Regions from separate parts of the Homo sapiens genome. Here region 1 is linked to region 2. The links come from fine-mapping of genetic effects on gene expression. A gene starts in region 2. The other region holds a variant in brackets. All regions are shown on one strand. Distances are from middle to middle. Region 1 overlaps PTAR1 (protein prenyltransferase alpha subunit repeat containing 1). Region 2 holds the start of PTAR1 (protein prenyltransferase alpha subunit repeat containing 1).

What was found. PIP is the estimated chance that this variant, and not a neighbour inherited with it, causes the effect. A credible set is the group of variants that fine-mapping cannot tell apart.
Region 1: its variant is the best candidate, but not a certain one, in a credible set for the expression of PTAR1 in whole blood (INTERVAL, PIP 0.87).

Annotation. Positions count from the first base shown.
Region 1 is chr9:69,733,310-69,741,691 of GRCh38, reverse strand. PTAR1 (protein prenyltransferase alpha subunit repeat containing 1) reads left to right here. Exons shown (of 8, transcript NM_001099666.2): 4 at 7,438-7,542. Among named protein-coding and RNA genes, the nearest start is that of PTAR1, 23 kb to the left of the region's middle. The variant T/G (reference allele first, on the strand shown) is at 4,169.
Region 2 is chr9:69,756,412-69,764,793 of GRCh38, reverse strand. PTAR1 (protein prenyltransferase alpha subunit repeat containing 1) reads left to right here and starts at 4,783. Exons shown (of 8, transcript NM_001099666.2): 1 at 4,783-4,941. The coding sequence starts at 4,856. LOC105376076 (a long non-coding RNA gene) reads right to left here and starts at 4,699. Exons shown (of 4, transcript XR_929910.3): 1 at 4,321-4,699. RefSeq lists enhancers at 341-1,195, 1,196-2,051, 2,906-3,761, 5,236-5,285 and silencers at 2,427-2,721, 4,626-5,095.

The DNA.
Region 1 (8,382 bases), 23 kb after region 2:
TTTACACTTATTTCTTCTCCCTATTCTTTATACCTGTGACAATTCTAAATAGGCATTTTGCCCCTTTTTGTGTGGTGTCTTCATAAACTTTCTTGCCTGAAATATAAATTGTCATGTTGAGTTACAGTATACTGTTTGATACATGCTTTTATTTTCCTTCATTTTTTGGGGTGGGAGACTAATGGGCAATGGGCATAACTGGTTGGCTTATAAGGCATATAACATTATATCATTGGTATTTGAGAAGCACTGCAGTGTAGTGGAAAGTGTATGGGATGAGAAAGAGGGAGTCATGCTTGCCTCTGGCTTTTTCCCTGAGCAACTGAAAGGATGGAATTGCCATTTACTGAAATGGCAGTGTCTGGAAGAGAAACAGATTTAGGTAGGCGGTGTTTGTTATAGGCCAAGAGTTCAGATTGGGACATGTTAGATTTGTGTCCAAGTAGTTGTATATTAATTTAAAGTTCAGGAAAAAGGTCTGGGCCAGATGTAAACTTGGGAATTACTAACATATAGATGGTTTTAAAGCCATGAAACTGTTTTAAGATCCCCAAAAGTGTTGGCATAGCTAGAGACAAGAACCAGTTCAAAGACTGAGCCCTGAGACATTCTATTTTCTAGGGTTGCACAATCCAGTACAGTAGCCATTAGCCACATGTGGCTATTGAGCCCTTGAAATGTGATTAGTCTCAACTGAGATGTGTCCGAAGTGATAAACTGCACATCATATTTTGAAGACTACCTAGCAAAAAATGGAAATATCTCATTAATAATTTTTATATTACTTGCTGAAATTATTATATTTTGGATATATTGAATTAAATATATTTATACTTGTGTTTAATATAGCTGTTAGAACATTTTAAATCATATATGACTCGTATTTGTGACTCACATTATATTTCTATTGGACAGCACTGTTCTAGCATTTGCAAGATGAGGAAGAATCAGCAAAGGAGACTTTTAGGAAGGTACCATGAACTTAAAATTCAGAGCTTTTTTAAGGGCAGGGACCATGTCTTTTTTTTTTTTTTTTTCCCCTTTGTTTCCTTAGCATCTAACTCTAGTGCCGGTACATAATAGACATGCAGTTTGCAAATTGGGCACGGAAATCAAATTCAGTGAAAAAGAAATCAGAGTAATAGGGAAGTAGGAATGCCATTTTTCTTCATGTTCTTGTATTCCTCACCTATAGAGAGGAATTCAAAAGTCCTTCAACAAAAAAATTCTCACTAGCCTAGCATATATGCATAGATAGGTACATACACACACACACACACACCTGTATACATATGTGTATACACACGTGTTATTCATTGTATATTCTATAAGCCCGTTGAGCATAGGAGAAAAAAACCTAGGCCTAAGATTCATGGAACTTAGTCCTGTTTCATCATCCTCACCAATAGAGAGGAATTCAAAAATGCTTCAACAAAAAATGATCTCACTAGCATAGTGTATATACCTACATACATACATACACACACACACCTATATACATATATGTATACACACATGTTATTCATTGTATATCCTATAAACCAGTTGAGCATAGGAGAAAAAATCCTGGCCTTAAGATTCATGGAACTTAGTCCTGTTTCATAAGTTAACTAGCGGCTGACTTTGAGTATAACTTTTAATTATCAAGAGTTTTGGTTTTTTTATCTATGAAATAAAAGATTTGAATTAGGTGAATTTTTTTATGATTCTATTAAACTTTTAAAAAAATATGTCTGGTTGGTCTTATGAAGGGAAGTTGCTCCATAAATCTAACTTGAGGGATGTTTATGACAGTTAATCTTGAAAATTGTTCTAGTTAGATGATTAGTAAGGTTTTGTGCTAGATGAGTAGAAAGGGAATCTTGATTTTTAAAAAATCCTTTGTGGATATGTGTTCTAGTAAATTTTAATTCATATCAGTAAGATTGATTGACATAGAAAGACATCAAATCATAGGTACATTTTGAGCAACAAACTACCAACTTCAAAGTAAATTCTAACCCTATAAGGTCTCTATTGCGTATCAAATACACAGAACTTTATTTTTAATTGTTAGTGGATCTCTTCTGTACTAACCCTGGAAGGCATTGAGTGATTTTTTAATGCATTTTTCAAACTGCTAAAGAATAATGCAATAGACGTCTAGTTCAATTTGTGGGTATTGCAGTCTTAGGGGAAAGAAATAGAGGCAAAAATAAGTTTTTGAACTGATCTCCTGTAATTACAGTGAGTGATACACATAATTTAGAATTTCAGCTGTCTTTTTTTTTTTTAAAGAAAACTGCTTTTTTTTTTTGCTTTGGAAATTTGTGAATTACCTGATGAAAGAGGTTGACTTAGTAATAATGTCCTATTTTCTTCATCAGTCTATGTACTTAGAGTAAGCAAAACACCTTTGAGCAACTAGAATAGTTGATGCCAAACTCCAGTGATTCATGTTCTGAACTCATAGCCTATTGATTTAAATTGGTAACTTTATTTTGTGCAGATTTGATGTTTGGTTCTGACATTTTGAGCTAAGAAACCTGAGCAAGTTACTGAACTTCTCCAGGATTCAATTTCTTCATCTGTAAAATTGAGGTATTTGGCCGGGCATGGTGGCTCACGCCTGTAATCCCAGCACTTTGGGAGGCCAAGGTGGGTGGATCACGAGGTCAGGAGATCAAGACCATCCTGGCCAATATGGTGAAACCCCATCTCTACTAAAATACAAAAAATTAGCCGTGCGTGTCAGTGCACATGTGTAGTCCCAGCCACTCTGGAGGCTGAGGAAGGGGAATCGCTTGAACCTGGGAGGCGGAGGTTGCAGTGAGCCAAGAGCGTGCCACTGCACTCCAGCCTGGTGACAGAGCAAGACTCCGTCTCAAAAAAAAAAAAAAAAATTGAGGTGTTAGGGAAATTTTTTTTATATAGATAAAAAACAATTTAATTCTAGCACCCACATTGTGGTTTCTAATACCATTCTTTAATGATGTTAGAAATGGCTGATTCTAGGACCAGAGCAGGAAGTATACAAGATGAGCTTGGAGCATCTTATAGAGCCAGAAAGTAAGGAAGTATTCAAAAATATATGGTGGGATATGAAAAAGGGACATGGGGAGCAACTGAAAGAGCTTCCAGTGGCCATAGCTGGAATGATTTGAGCAACAAAATAAATAACATAGTATTGGATTATACCCCTATCCATCAGCCCACTGAAATGAATGAATGAATATATAAGTAAGAGACAATAGACAAATGTTCTGTTAATTTATCTAGATAATCCCCCTCTACAAGGTAGAGCATAACTCTGTATTTCTTAAGGTTGAGCTGTGCACCAAATAAAAAAATCAGTGACTTTCTTGCAAAAAGTAGTGAAGAAACCTGAACTCAGCCAGGTAATCCAGATTGATATCAACAATGCTAAGTCATGTTGATAGCACATGCCTCTGATATGATGCAGTGAAAATGTCACTTTACCTCTTTGGTCTTCCTCTCCAGAATCTGTAACTCCAGTTTAATGATGAGAAAAACATTATACAAAATACCTGACCCATATTCTCAAAACTGTCAAAGTCATCAAAAGCAAGGTAAATTTGAGTAGCCAAGAGGAGCATAAGGAGACATAACTACCAAATATAAGGGATCCTGGAGGGAACTTTAGAAGAGGAAAAGGACATTTGGTAGAAACTAAGGAATTCTAAATAAAGTATGGACTTTTAATAAAAATATATCAATATCAATACTGTTGCATAAATTTTGACAAAGGTACCATGGTAATATAAGATGTTAATAGCAGAGAAACTAGGTACAGGGCATATGGGAATTCTTTGTATTATCCTTACAACTTGTTTACGAACCTGAAACTATTGTAAAATAAAAAGTTTATTTTTAAAAAAAGATTGAGTATCAGCAATTTCATATGGCTCAATGATGATATTTACCTTACAGGATTGTTGTGAGAAATTATGTAACATATGTAAATCACTTTACACGGTTCTTGACTCAGAGGAAGTGTTCAATACATGGTAGTTTTTAATGAGGATGGCCATTATTATTGTCATTTCAGACAGAGTAAAGATTGAGAAAAGAAAAAGAGTAGTCAGTTTTATTCAAACACCTTACATGCCTCATTGACATCAGTGACTTTGTCATCACAAGACCTAGTTGTTTTTAGTTCTGTAGCACA[T/G]TTTTCCAGAGCCCATCATAGTATATCTAAGTTGTTTGAGCTACAGCACTTTTTGAATCTGTTTGTGAGTGGAAATTGTATCTCCAGTCAGATTCTTATTTGAATACATTAGAGCAGTTGATTTTTTTAAAATGTAGCTCTAAGGCCAGGTATGGTGGCTCACACCTGTAATCCCAGCACTTTGGGAGGCCGAGATGGGTGGATTGCTTGAGCTCAGAAGTTTGAGACCAGCCTGGGCAACATGGTGAGACCCTGTCTCCACCAAAAATACAAAAAATTAGCTAGACGTGGTTGTGTGTGCCTGTGGTCCCAGCTGCTTGGGAGGCTGAGGCAGGAGGATCACTTGAGCCCAGGAGGCAGAGATTTCAGTGAGCCAAGATTGTGCCACTGTACTCCAGCCTGGGCAAGACAGTGAGACCCCATCTAAAAAAAAATATATAGCACTAGATTATGTGATTGCTGTTAATGTTACCACATATCATATTTCCTCTTAAAGTGATTTTTGAAAAACTTGTTTCAGCAATATCCAACACCTACAAATGTTCAGTACTACCCCTAGCAATGTTTATTACATTGATATTAAAATTTTGCTTGATTCCATCAGGTGATCTTTTTCAGTGTCCATATATTAACATTGATTGAGGTTGTTTCAAGCTAAGATGTCTTCCCAAAAATGCTGCTTAATTCAAAATAAAGATATTAACGGAGTCCCCATTTTTTTCTTTTTCTTTTTTTAAAATTCTGTACCGCAGTGGTTGCAAAAGAGAGTGCCCATAATTTAAGAAACTTTGTCAAAACTCAGTTGTAGGGTAACTGCCTCTTTTTTGAAGAAAATTTTGATTATCTCCCCTTATATATGGATATATATGGGAATAAAGGTAGACAGTTATAAATAATAAGAGGTCTTAAATTTATGAAATGGAAATTAAGCATAATACAATAAATTCATTATAGTAGTTGTTTTTTAAACTTTAATGGGCATCATTATTGCCAGGCTGGAGTGCAGTGGCGCGATCTTGGCTCACTGCAACCTCTGCCTCCTGGGTTCAAGCGATTCTCCTGCCTCAGCCTCCCAAGTAGCTGGGACTACAGGTGCGTGCCACCATGCCCAGCTAATTTTTTTACTTTTAATAGAAACAAAGTTTCACCATGTTGGCCAGGATGGTCTCAATCTCTTGACCTCGTGATCCACCTGCCTCGGCCTCCCAAAGTGCTGGGATTACAGGCGTGAGCTACCGTGCCCAGCCAATGGGCATCATCTGAAGAGCTTGTTTTAAAACACATATTGCTGTGCCCACCTGAGTTTCTGACTCAGTTGGTTCTGGGCTGAGGCCTGAGGATCTGCATTTCGCATAAGTTCCAGATGATGCTGATGTTGCAGTCAGGGTTCACTTTGAGAAACATTGCTTTCAAACGTGGTTAAAATTACATAGAGCAATATTTTCCTCCTTTTACTTTATAGGTATCCTGACTTACTGTATGAACAAAATGTTACTGATTTCAGAAGAAAAATAATCCAAGACTGCAAAAGCAATTGGCTGTTGCAAGAAAAAAATATATATTTTATATATATATTATATATATATAATGACAAATTGGTTTCCTGAACATTGAAAGGAAAATAGTTGTTTTCTTTATCAAATAAAACTTTATAAATAGTATGTCACTGTTGGAAAGAAAATGTATTGTGGTATTTAGGAATTAAGTCCGTCTAAGTAGATATGGTATAAGAGCTGGATTCTGGTTTTCTCTGGCTTAAACTTCTCTAAAATAAATGAATAATCAGCCCTACACAGGAAGGACATTTTAAGATAAATAATAACAAATGATCTGATTTTATTATAAAATTATAGATACATTGAGAATTCAGTGAGAGTGTAATATCAGCACTTATCAAAAACTTACCTGAGAAATTAAATGTAAATTGTATTTACCTGAGAAACAGGTATAGAAAGCTCTTGCATGACATTCTTTATATAGTTGGCCCTCTGTATCTGTAGGTTCTGCATCCATGGATTCAACCAACCGCAGATAGAAAATATTTGGGGAAAAAATTGCTTTCTGTAGCGAACATGTTCAGACTTTGTTTTCCTATCATTAGTCCCTGAATAATGTAACAACTATTTATATAGCATTTACATTGTATTAGGTATTATAAGTAATCTAGAGATGATATGAAGTATATGGGAGGATGTGTGTAGGTTATATGGCAACACATTTTATATCAAGGACTTGAGCATTCGCAGATTTTGGTATCCTTGGGAGGTCCTGAACCAAGCCCCCACAAGATACCAAGGGACAACTGATTGCATTGAAGCTTTGGTTGGGCTTGAACAGTTTTAAAAACAACCAAAACATTACATTGCTATTACTTCTGCTGCTTATATTAATATTTTAAAAAGGAATGGCCTCGTATATCAAGGGTCATGTAAGTATTTTACCTTGTTAATAGCTCTTTTGGAAACTTATCCAAAGTAAGAATACAAAAGAAAGAAGTTATAAGCACAAAGCTTCCCCTGCCCAGATTTGTTTTAAAATAACAAAAAGTTTGACGCAACCTAAATGTCTAACAAGAAGGGAAAAGCATAGCTTCTAAATGAAAACTAATTTGATCATTTAAAATGTTCATTACAAAGATTATATAGAATCATGGGGAAATTCTTAAGATATAATGAGAGCAGGATGTAAAATTATATGTTAAAATGTATGTGTGATAGGGAAAAGTAGAAGGGAAAATTCAAAAATAAAAAATAGTAATTTGGTTAGAATAGTGATTCCATGAATGATTTTTTTTTCCCTTACATCTCAACCATATTGTGTTTGTTGTATGTGTGGTTTTGTAATGAAATAGACCATGTCAAGTCCTATTTAGGAAACTAGACCAATTTTGGCTGGTATTGGATTGGCCCTATAGGTACGATATCAGGTCTCACAACTTTTGGAAATGAGATAGGCCAGAAAACCCCATTTACCCTCACGCAAATAGTTAAGATTTAAAAATCGTTAAAATCTGTTGATTTAAGAGCTTCTCTTTCTGCTTATTAGTTTGTTATATTGGGATTATGAGAATACATTCTTGATTACTGCATGTCACATTTATGAGTGTTTTATATCCCAGAGTGGCTTGGGCTTTTTTTCTTTCTTTTTTTGTTTTAAAATTCTTAGACATTCGCTTCACAATGAGATTATATTAAAAGCCATGTAGAACCTTTGGATATAAGGATAAAGTAATGTTTAATTTTTTTTTTTTTTTTTTTTTTTTTTTACAGGAAAGAGCTGATCCTCTCTGGCACTTTAAATCCAATTAAGGATTTACATCTGGGAAAACTCGCCTTAACCAAGTTTCCAAAGAGTCCAGAAACATGGATTCACAGGTGTGGTTAATTTACAACATAGTACTCTTACTTAGGATTCAGACTGGCTGGAGAAAGAAACATGACATGTGAGAGGCAAGGTTACTTATTGGTTCCAGAGCATGAATTCTGAAGTCAGGTTACCTACATTTAAATCTAGGAGCTATATAACTTGCTACCTAAGTGTTCATGGGAAATTACTTAACTCACCAAGCCTCAGTTTTCTCATTTGTAAAATGAGAATAATAATTACACCTGTCTCATATAGTTAACAGTCAAGTTTACGTGAGTTAATGCATGTAACACTCCCACAGTGCCTGGCACATATTAAATACTCAATAAATGTTAGCTATTATTAACTCTTTGAAGCAGTTGTGGGCATTGCATTTATAGATACTCAACTGTAATGAGCAATATGGATTTTAAAAGCATTTGGTTGTTTTCCTGGTAAAGATGTTGGTGGTGATGGTTGTGGTTATTAAAATTAACTTACAGAGAAAGCTGAGGGCAGCTGAAGCGAATGCTGTGTAGGCTGAGCTAAAGTTGCTAAAATCCATACATACAAAGAACATTTTTAGGTTAAAAGCATGGGACAGATAGCCAGAATGCACTTTAGGACTCTCAAAATCCTGGCCACCTGGAACCATCTTCCTCTTGGACCCTGTGTAACTACTCTTATTTGACCAAAATGGGATGGTGTGGGCTTGCTAGTCAGGACCAATGAAGAAGTCACTCTGAAATTCTCAGTTTATTAAGCCACTCTAATTTTTCTTAAATCGTGGGCATTTTTAGGATCTTATGTCCGTTCCAGGTGTCTTAGTGGTAATCGTGCCTTTAGTTAACATTGCAGGTCAGCTTCTT
Region 2 (8,382 bases):
ATTTGTATGGTATATATGAAATTAGGATTATATTGTATTGTATTTGTATTTGGTACTTGTTTTGGTCATTACATATCCACATTTTCCTCTATCATCAATTAGTCTTCTAAAATAAGAAACGTGTGGTTTTTGGGAGTGGGTAGGAAGATTGTCAAAATATATTCACAACCATGTAAATGATAATAATAGACATGGTCACTTAAAAAAATCAATATATCTGTAAGAAAATTAGTATGCACATAATATATTTGGCTAATTAACAAACAAATATATCAGCTCCTTATTAATATATAATTTAAAAAACTTTTCTTAGGCCAGGTGCAGTGGCTCAAGCCTGTAATCCCAGCACTTTGGGAGGCCGAGGTGGGTGGTCAGGAGTTGAGGTCAGGAATTCGAGACCAGCCTGGCCAACATGGTGAAACCCAGTCTCTACTAAAAATAGAAAAATTAGCCAGGTGTGGTGGCGTGTGTCTGTAATACCAGCTACTCAGGAGGCTGACACAGGAGAATCGCTTGAACCTGTACCACTGCACTGCAGCCTGCACGACAGAGTGAGAATCCGTCTCAAAAAAAAAAAAATTCTTAAATTACAAATGTTACTTTGCTCTTTACATTACATAGTCAAATTGTCCTATGAAAATACCTCTAACACTTTGGTATATATTCCTCTAGTTATAATGTGATTTTCATGTGGGGAAAAGCAAGAGAGATCAGATTGTTACTGTGTCTGTGTAGAAAGAAGTAGACATAGGAGACTCCATTTTGTTATGTACTAGGAGAAATTCTTCTGCCTTGAGATCCTGTTAATCTATAACCTTACCCCCAACCCCGTGCTCTCTGAAACATGTGCTGTGTCAACTCAGAGTTGAATGGATTAAGGGCGGTGCAAGATGTGCTTTGTTAAACAGATGCTTGAAGGCAGCATGCTCGTTAAGAGTCATCACCACTCCCTAATCTCAAGTACCCAGGGACACAAAAACTGCGGAAGTCCGCAGGGACCTCTGCCTAGGAAAGCCAGGTATTGTCCAAGGTTTCTCCCCATGTGATAGTCTGAAATATGGCCTCGTGGGAAGGGAAAGACCTGACCGTCCCCCAGCCCGACACCCGTAAAGGGTCTGTGCTGAGGAGGATTAGTAAAAGAGGAAGGAATGCCTCTTGCAGTTGAGACAAGAGGAAGGCATCTGTCTCCTGCCTGTCCCTGGGCAATGGAATGTCTCGGTATAAAACCCGATTGTATGCTGCATCTACTGAGATAGGGAAAAACTGCCTTAGGGCTGGAGGTGGGACCTGCGGGCAGCAATACTGCTTTGTAAAGCATTGAGATGTTTATGTGTATGCATATCTAAAAGCACAGCACTTAATCCTTTACATTGTCTATGATGCAAAGACCTTTGTTCACGTGTTTGTCTGCTGACCCTCTCCCCACAATTGTCTTGTGACCCTGACACATCCCCCTCTTTGAGAAACACCCACAGATGATCAATAAATACTAAGGGAACTCAGAGGCTGGCGGGATCCTCCATATGCTGAACGCTGGTTCCCCGGGTCCCCTTATTTCTTTCTCTATACTTTGTCTCTGTGTCTTTTTCTTTTCCAAATCTCTCGTCCCACCTTACGAGAAACACCCACAAGTGTGTAGGGGCAACCCACCCCTACATTTTCAAATACTAAATAGCATCTTACCATATAAATTTATAATTTAATCAATCCCCTCTCATTGGGCATTTAAGTTATTTACTGTATTTTATTATCAATAAATGAACATAAATCTTGTAGTCCTTCGACAAAATCACGCTGAATTTATTATGCCCTATTCTTGTATACATATATATCATTATTGAGGATTTATGAATTTCAAATCTTAAATCCTTTGGACTTCTGTTTTCTTATCTGTAAAATTAGAGAGTTGGCTCAGAGTTCTAATTATGCTCCAATTCTAAAAAAAAAAACAAGTTCTAAACATAGTAGATTCTTAATAATTGGGGTAAAACAATTTGTGAATTCTTAGAGGAAACAAGATACAATGCATGCCTTTCAAATGACTATAAAGAGGTTGCATGTGGAGAGGGCATACACAGAATCATACAGAGGAATTCTGTTTCTGAAATAGCTGTTTTACATCAAAATTTGGGGACAAAGTTTTCTTTTTTCCCTGTTAAATAAAGCCTTTCGGGGAAAATCATTATTTCTGAGTGTGCTGCTTTGATCTCTGCCTCCAGAAATTGGGATTTATTTCCCACTGCCATTAGGATGCAAGGTCCTGATTAAGAAAACTTACTAAGTTTAAGAATTTTAATTTAAGAACTGGTCTTACATTCTTAATCAGGATATTTAAAGTTGTCTTTTGCCTTGAAATCTAAACACACATTCCACTCTTTTCACTGCTTCACTCCAGAACTTGTTATCGGTTAAATTTTGATTGATTTTACTAACTCTTTTTTTTTCTTTCTTTTTTTTTTTTTTTTTTTTTTGAGATGGCATTTCGCTTTTGTTGCCCAGGCTGGAGTGCAGGGCACAGTCTTGGCTTACTGCAACGTGCGTCTCCCGGGTTCAAGCGATTCTCCTGCCTCAGCCTCCCAAGTAGCTGGAGCTACAGGCATGCACCACGACGCCCAGCTAATTTTGTATTTTAAGTAGAGACGGGGTTTCACCCTGTTGGCCAGGCTGGTCTCAAACTCCTGATCTCAGGTATCCACCCGCCTCGGCCTCCCAAAGTGCTGGGATTACAGGCGTGAGACACCGTGCCCGGCCGACTTTACTAATTCTTAATCCTGTCCCACCTTGCTGGCTACAATTTTGTGAAACTTCTATCTCACTTCTTTTTTTTTTTTTTTAGATGGAGTCTTGCTCTGTCGCCAGGCTGGAGGGCAGTGGCGCGATCTCCACTCACTGCAACCTCCTACTTCCGCGTTCAAGCGCTTCTCCTGCCTCAGCCTCCCAAGTAGCTGGGATTACAAGCACGTGCCACCACGCCCAGCTAATTTTATATTTTTAGTAGAGACGGCGTTTCACTGTCTTGGCCACGATGGTCTCGAACTCCTGACCTCGTGATCCTTCCGCCTCTGCCTCCCAAAGTGCTGGGATTACAGGTGTAAGCCACCGTGCCCGGTCCTATCTCACTTCTTTTACAACCAGAAGGCTAACTCCAGCCTTTATAAACATACCCACAGGAAATACTGGCCACTGAGTATAGTAAATTTATATTTTTCGTTTATATTTCTCATTCACTTTACATGCAATAGATAGCTTTTACTTTTACAATCATAAAAACTACTTCAAACGCTCCGCATATGTTCACATTAAACACACCATGAGTTTATTTTTTTAATAGCTTTTTAAAGATACAGATTTCTTTTTTTTTTTTTTTGAGACAGAGTCTCGCTCTGTCGCCCAGGCCGGACTGCGGACTGCAGTGGCGCAATCTCGGCTCACTGCAAGCTCCGCTTCCCGGGTTCACGCCATTCTCCTGCCTCAGCCTCCCGAGTAGCTGGGACTACAGGCGCCCGCCACCGCGCCCAGCTAATTTTTTGTATTTTTAGTAGAGACGGGGTTTCACCTTGTTAGCCAGGATGGTCTCGATCTCCTGACCTCATGATCCACCCGCCTCGGCCTCCCAAGGTGCTGGGATTACAGGCGTGAGCCACCGCGCCCGGCCTTTTTTTAAAGACGGAGTCTCGCTCTGTCGCCCAGGCTGGAGTGCAGTGGGGAGTAGCTGGGATTACAGGCGCCCGCCACCACGCCCGGCTTTTTTTTTTTTTTTTTTTTTTTTGTATTTTTAGTAGAGACGGGGTTTCACCGTGTTAGCCAGGATGGTCTCGATCTCCTGACCTTGTGATCCGCCCGCCTTGGCCCCCCAAAGTGCTGGGATTACAGGCGTGAGCCACCGCACCTGGCCAGATTTCAAGGGTGGAAGAATAAAACTGAACCAAGGGCAGCCAGATTTTTCTACCAGAGGTGCAAAAGAAAACCTGATACACAAAAATTTTAGTTATGGCATTTCAAAATCCTAAATAAACTAGAAAGCTCGTTTTTCCTACAAAAATTTATTTTTGCTATTATGAACAAACCCTGTCAGAGCCTTGATCCTTTTTTTTAAATTCCAAAATTGACGCAAAGGCTACCAAATGCAGTACAAAATGAAGTCGAAAAATCTAAAAACGATTTCACTTCTACTTCCTACATACAGATGGCAAATAACTTTTCCTTCACTTTCCTTTCTCTTCCTTTAATAAATTTAAGAATTTTAATTAATGTTTTTTAAAAAGGCTGCTTTCAAGTTCAGAGACAAAAATTGGCACAGTTAGAAAGGAGGTCACCAACACGGTCAAATAGGGACTCGCTCCGCCGCAATGCCTCTGGACCTCTTCATCTCTCAGGCTGGGAAAATAAAGCAGACAAGCTCTGAAAAACGCCCGGGACTAACTGTTAAGAGGCCCTGCATCCTCAGTTGAACATTCCTTCAGGAATGCCCGGGGACCTTGCTGGGGGGGTTCAGGAAGGTGTCTGACTCTCTGGGAGTGTGTCTTGAGGTTTCGCCTAAAACTTAAAATAAGAAAATCGGAGGCCTGAGAGAACTTTGCAAACAAATGTCCAGCATCTTCTCTGACGCTTAGAAAGTCCGTTACCCGCGCGGAGGCGAACTTCTCCACTCACTGGAAGGCCACCAACCCTAGCTAACGCCACGCCCAGGCCGCCAACTGGCTGACCCGGAAGTGCTCGGCGGCGGCCGCGGCGGCGGGGACGCGGCCTAGCCGAAGCACCCGCGCGCGCGCGCGCGCGCTCGTTCTCCGCGGAACTCCCGCCGGCGGCCCGGCTCACGCGGAGGCGCGCCCGAACTGTCGCGGCCGCCGCCAACATGGCCGAGACCAGCGAGGAGGTGGCGGTGCTGGTGCAGCGGGTTGTGAAGGACATCACTAACGCCTTCAGGAGGAACCCACACATGTGAGTCGCGCGCCTCCGCCGCCTCCGAGGGTCGTCGGGAGCGGGCGGGGGCGGGGCCAAGCGTCCACCCGACCTCGGGCGGCGGGCGGACAGCGGGTCCTGGCCCACGAGCCCTTCTAGGGAGGAGGCAGAGCCGTGTCGGGCGGGACCGTTGTCGGCCGCCGCTGGCCCGGCTTTCCGCTACCGGGACGCGCTCGCGGTCGAGTCCCTAGAAGTGACCTCAAAAAATCAAAACGGAACTACTTTCTCTGTCCCTCCCCACCTTTTCATAGGAGTTCACGAAACTCCAGAGACGTCCCCCGTAGGTCGACATCCTTCCTGTGTTTAAGGTACTCGGGCGCACACAACGATGTGGGTCCGTGTATGCCTTGTAAACACAACTCTTGAGATTCATCCCGGACGTTGGCAAGAGGGGGTAACCGATCCTCTTACTTTTAATGAGCCTCAAACCCCTCAGTTTACTAACTAAAGGTGGTTTGAGGCTGCTTTTGACTTTAGCCTTACTTGCCACAAAATTGTAAAGTGACTCCGATAATACATTGTGTTTTGAAAGGTGAACAGAACATTCTCAAGAGAAGCTTCTGTGGGCGCAGTGTGGAGTCTGGGATAAAGCAAATGAAACCTTGATACTTTTTAGCATAAGCGGATTCATAGTTACAAGGAGCATGTTAACTCATTTTTATCCCAACACTGCTGCCCTCTTTAACGGGACACTGCAGAACTGACATATGTATCTCTTCCATTTTACTTGAAGTACTGTGGGAAGATACCGCAAGAGTCTACTTTTTGTAACACTTTGCTTTTATGTAACAAGTGAAAAGAAAGCTATTGAGAGAGAGAGAGAGATCTACATTATACAAAGGTGTAGGGAAGAAGCAACAATGTACCTCCTTTCCCATACCTCTTCCTCCTCAAAGAAAAGAAACATGGCATCCAGTTCTGCATTACTTTCATTTTAGCTAGTTGTTTTTGGAGTTTATTTTTTTTTTTTTTAGTTTATTATTTTTTATTATTATTTAATTTATTTTTATTTTATTCTTTAGACTGGAGCTCATGATTTTTTTTTTTAAGTATTCTAACCGGTTCAGCTTTTCTGCCTAAAAAAGTTGCCAAACGTGTATCTTACCAAAGTGTTCTTTTCCTCCAAGGTGATGATTGTAAAACAGTTAAGAAGCCGTTGGATGTTTTGCTCCCTTGTGGCACACAATTGGAGACGTGCAACTGTGCCACATTAAAAACAAAACACTGCTGGCCTCAAAACACACCTGCCACCTCTGACAGCATCCACTTCCCTCCCCCTTATGACTGCTGCCTTTTTCAAAATGAGAGTGTTTGGAATGATTTCCTGGCAGTATCCATAGTGGTTGCTGAGCCTTCTAAAGAATGCTTTGATGCCTTGCTGTATATCAGTCTTTCGATTTCTTTTTGAGAATGGGAGCCTTAGTGCAAGTAAGAGACGACCTCAAAAAAAAAAAAAGTTGGACAAATGAAGAGTGTATTTTCTCATCACTGGTATTTTTCTAGAAGAAATTACAGCAGAGATTAGAAATCTAATACAAAATGTCGTAATCATCTTATGTTCTCTTCTTTGAGGTAGACTAAAAGAGCATCATTATATTTGAAGAAACCAAGATTGAATGTTCATTGGCTTGGCAGTTTTTAACACAGTGCAGTTTGGAACATGTCCCAGTTCTTGTGGATCACATTTATGGAAACTCTTAAAGGACTTTAATGCCCCTCCCTAATCCTTTTTCTACTGTAAAACCTCATTAATATATCCTCAATGTATAATTTATTAGTAATAAGGATTTGGGTCATTCGAGATTTAAAACTTTGAGATAAGTTGGATATTCGGAATAATGTAATGATTTGTAATATAGGTCTTAAACATTTAAATAGCTTAACTCATTGTTTAAGACTAGTCATCAGCTATATTTGAATACATATTCCCCACAGTAAAACTATTTTCAATAATATTACTATGCATCTTTGTAAGTGCCTTATAATTTGGGCTTTTAAAAATTGCCTGCGCTTTCTTCCCTTAATTTAGCCCATTTACTCCCAAAATAAAGAGGCTGTGTTTCTTTTTTTTTTTTTAAGGCATTGTTTATCTGTAACGTTTGTATCTAACTTTACTGTATCTAATTACACTTTCAGTATTATACAAAAATTTTTTTGTTTTTCTTGTCCAAACTTAAGATCGGTTGTAATTTTATTGGCCAACATCTACTTCATTAAATACATTGACTTTGTTTATGTAGAAATATTTAGCCAGAAGGAGTTGAGGATGCAGTGGTGAGATGTGGATTTTGTTACTGTATGATGTGAATAGGTACCTTCTCTCAGCCTCAGTTTCCTCTTGATCTTGTGAGGCTGATGAAAACAGGAAAATCACCTCACACAGTGGTACTTAGTTGCCACTCAATAAATATTAGACCTTCCCTGAATCTCTGTGTTCCTCACCAAAAATATATTGGACAAATGATTGGTGAATATGAAGCACTTTATAAACCTGGATAATACTATATAAATGCTGTTTGTATGGTTGAGTATTAGATAATCATATTGGATTCTCTAAAACTGAAAACTTGACCTAGGGATAGTCTTTAACTTAGTGTATGGACCCTGTGCTAATGTAGAAGACAACAGTTTATAATGTAAACAGTCACGTTAAAATTAATCTTATCCAGCAAGTTATTGTTTTTTCTATTAAATATTGAACTCACTGTTTATGAAGTGTTGTGGGTACCATCTTTACTGTGTGAAATAGAAGTTTAAAATACAGTTCTTGAACCCAAGGCACTAACAGAAATTTCTGTAATGGTGGAAATTTTCTGTGTCTGTGCTGTTCCATATGGTAGCCACTAGCCATAGTAGCTATTGAGCAATTGAAGTGTCCCTAATATGAACAGGGACCACATTTTAAATTTTATTTAATTTAAATGGATTTGTACGTAGTGGCTCCATGTGCCTAGTGACTACTGTGATGCATAGTGCAGGTGTAGATGAGACCTAAGACTAACTGCATGAACAGTAAATTAACCCTCCAAAGTAGTTTATAGTAAAAGTTGGATAGGAGCATGATGAGCAAGTGCTATGGGAGTCTAATAGAAGTGGAGAGGAGGCTGGTTATGTCTCGGATAGGGGTGCTAGTGGAGGTGGGTTTTAAGCCAAGTATTAAAGTCTGGGTAGGATTTGTAGTCTCAGAGGGAGCCAGAGACCTCCACAGGGAGCAGTGAATTGACCTAAACAAGCAAAGTGTGGCTGAGAAGGTACAGTAGGGCCAGATTATGGAGATCCTTGACTCTCATTTAATTTCTTTCATTCCATTCATACATTCTGCAAAAGAGTACCTCCATTTGACAGGCACAATGCTGGTCTCTGGGTATACAGGGTTAAAAACTGGGTGGTTTAATGAACAAACCACACATGGTCCCTATC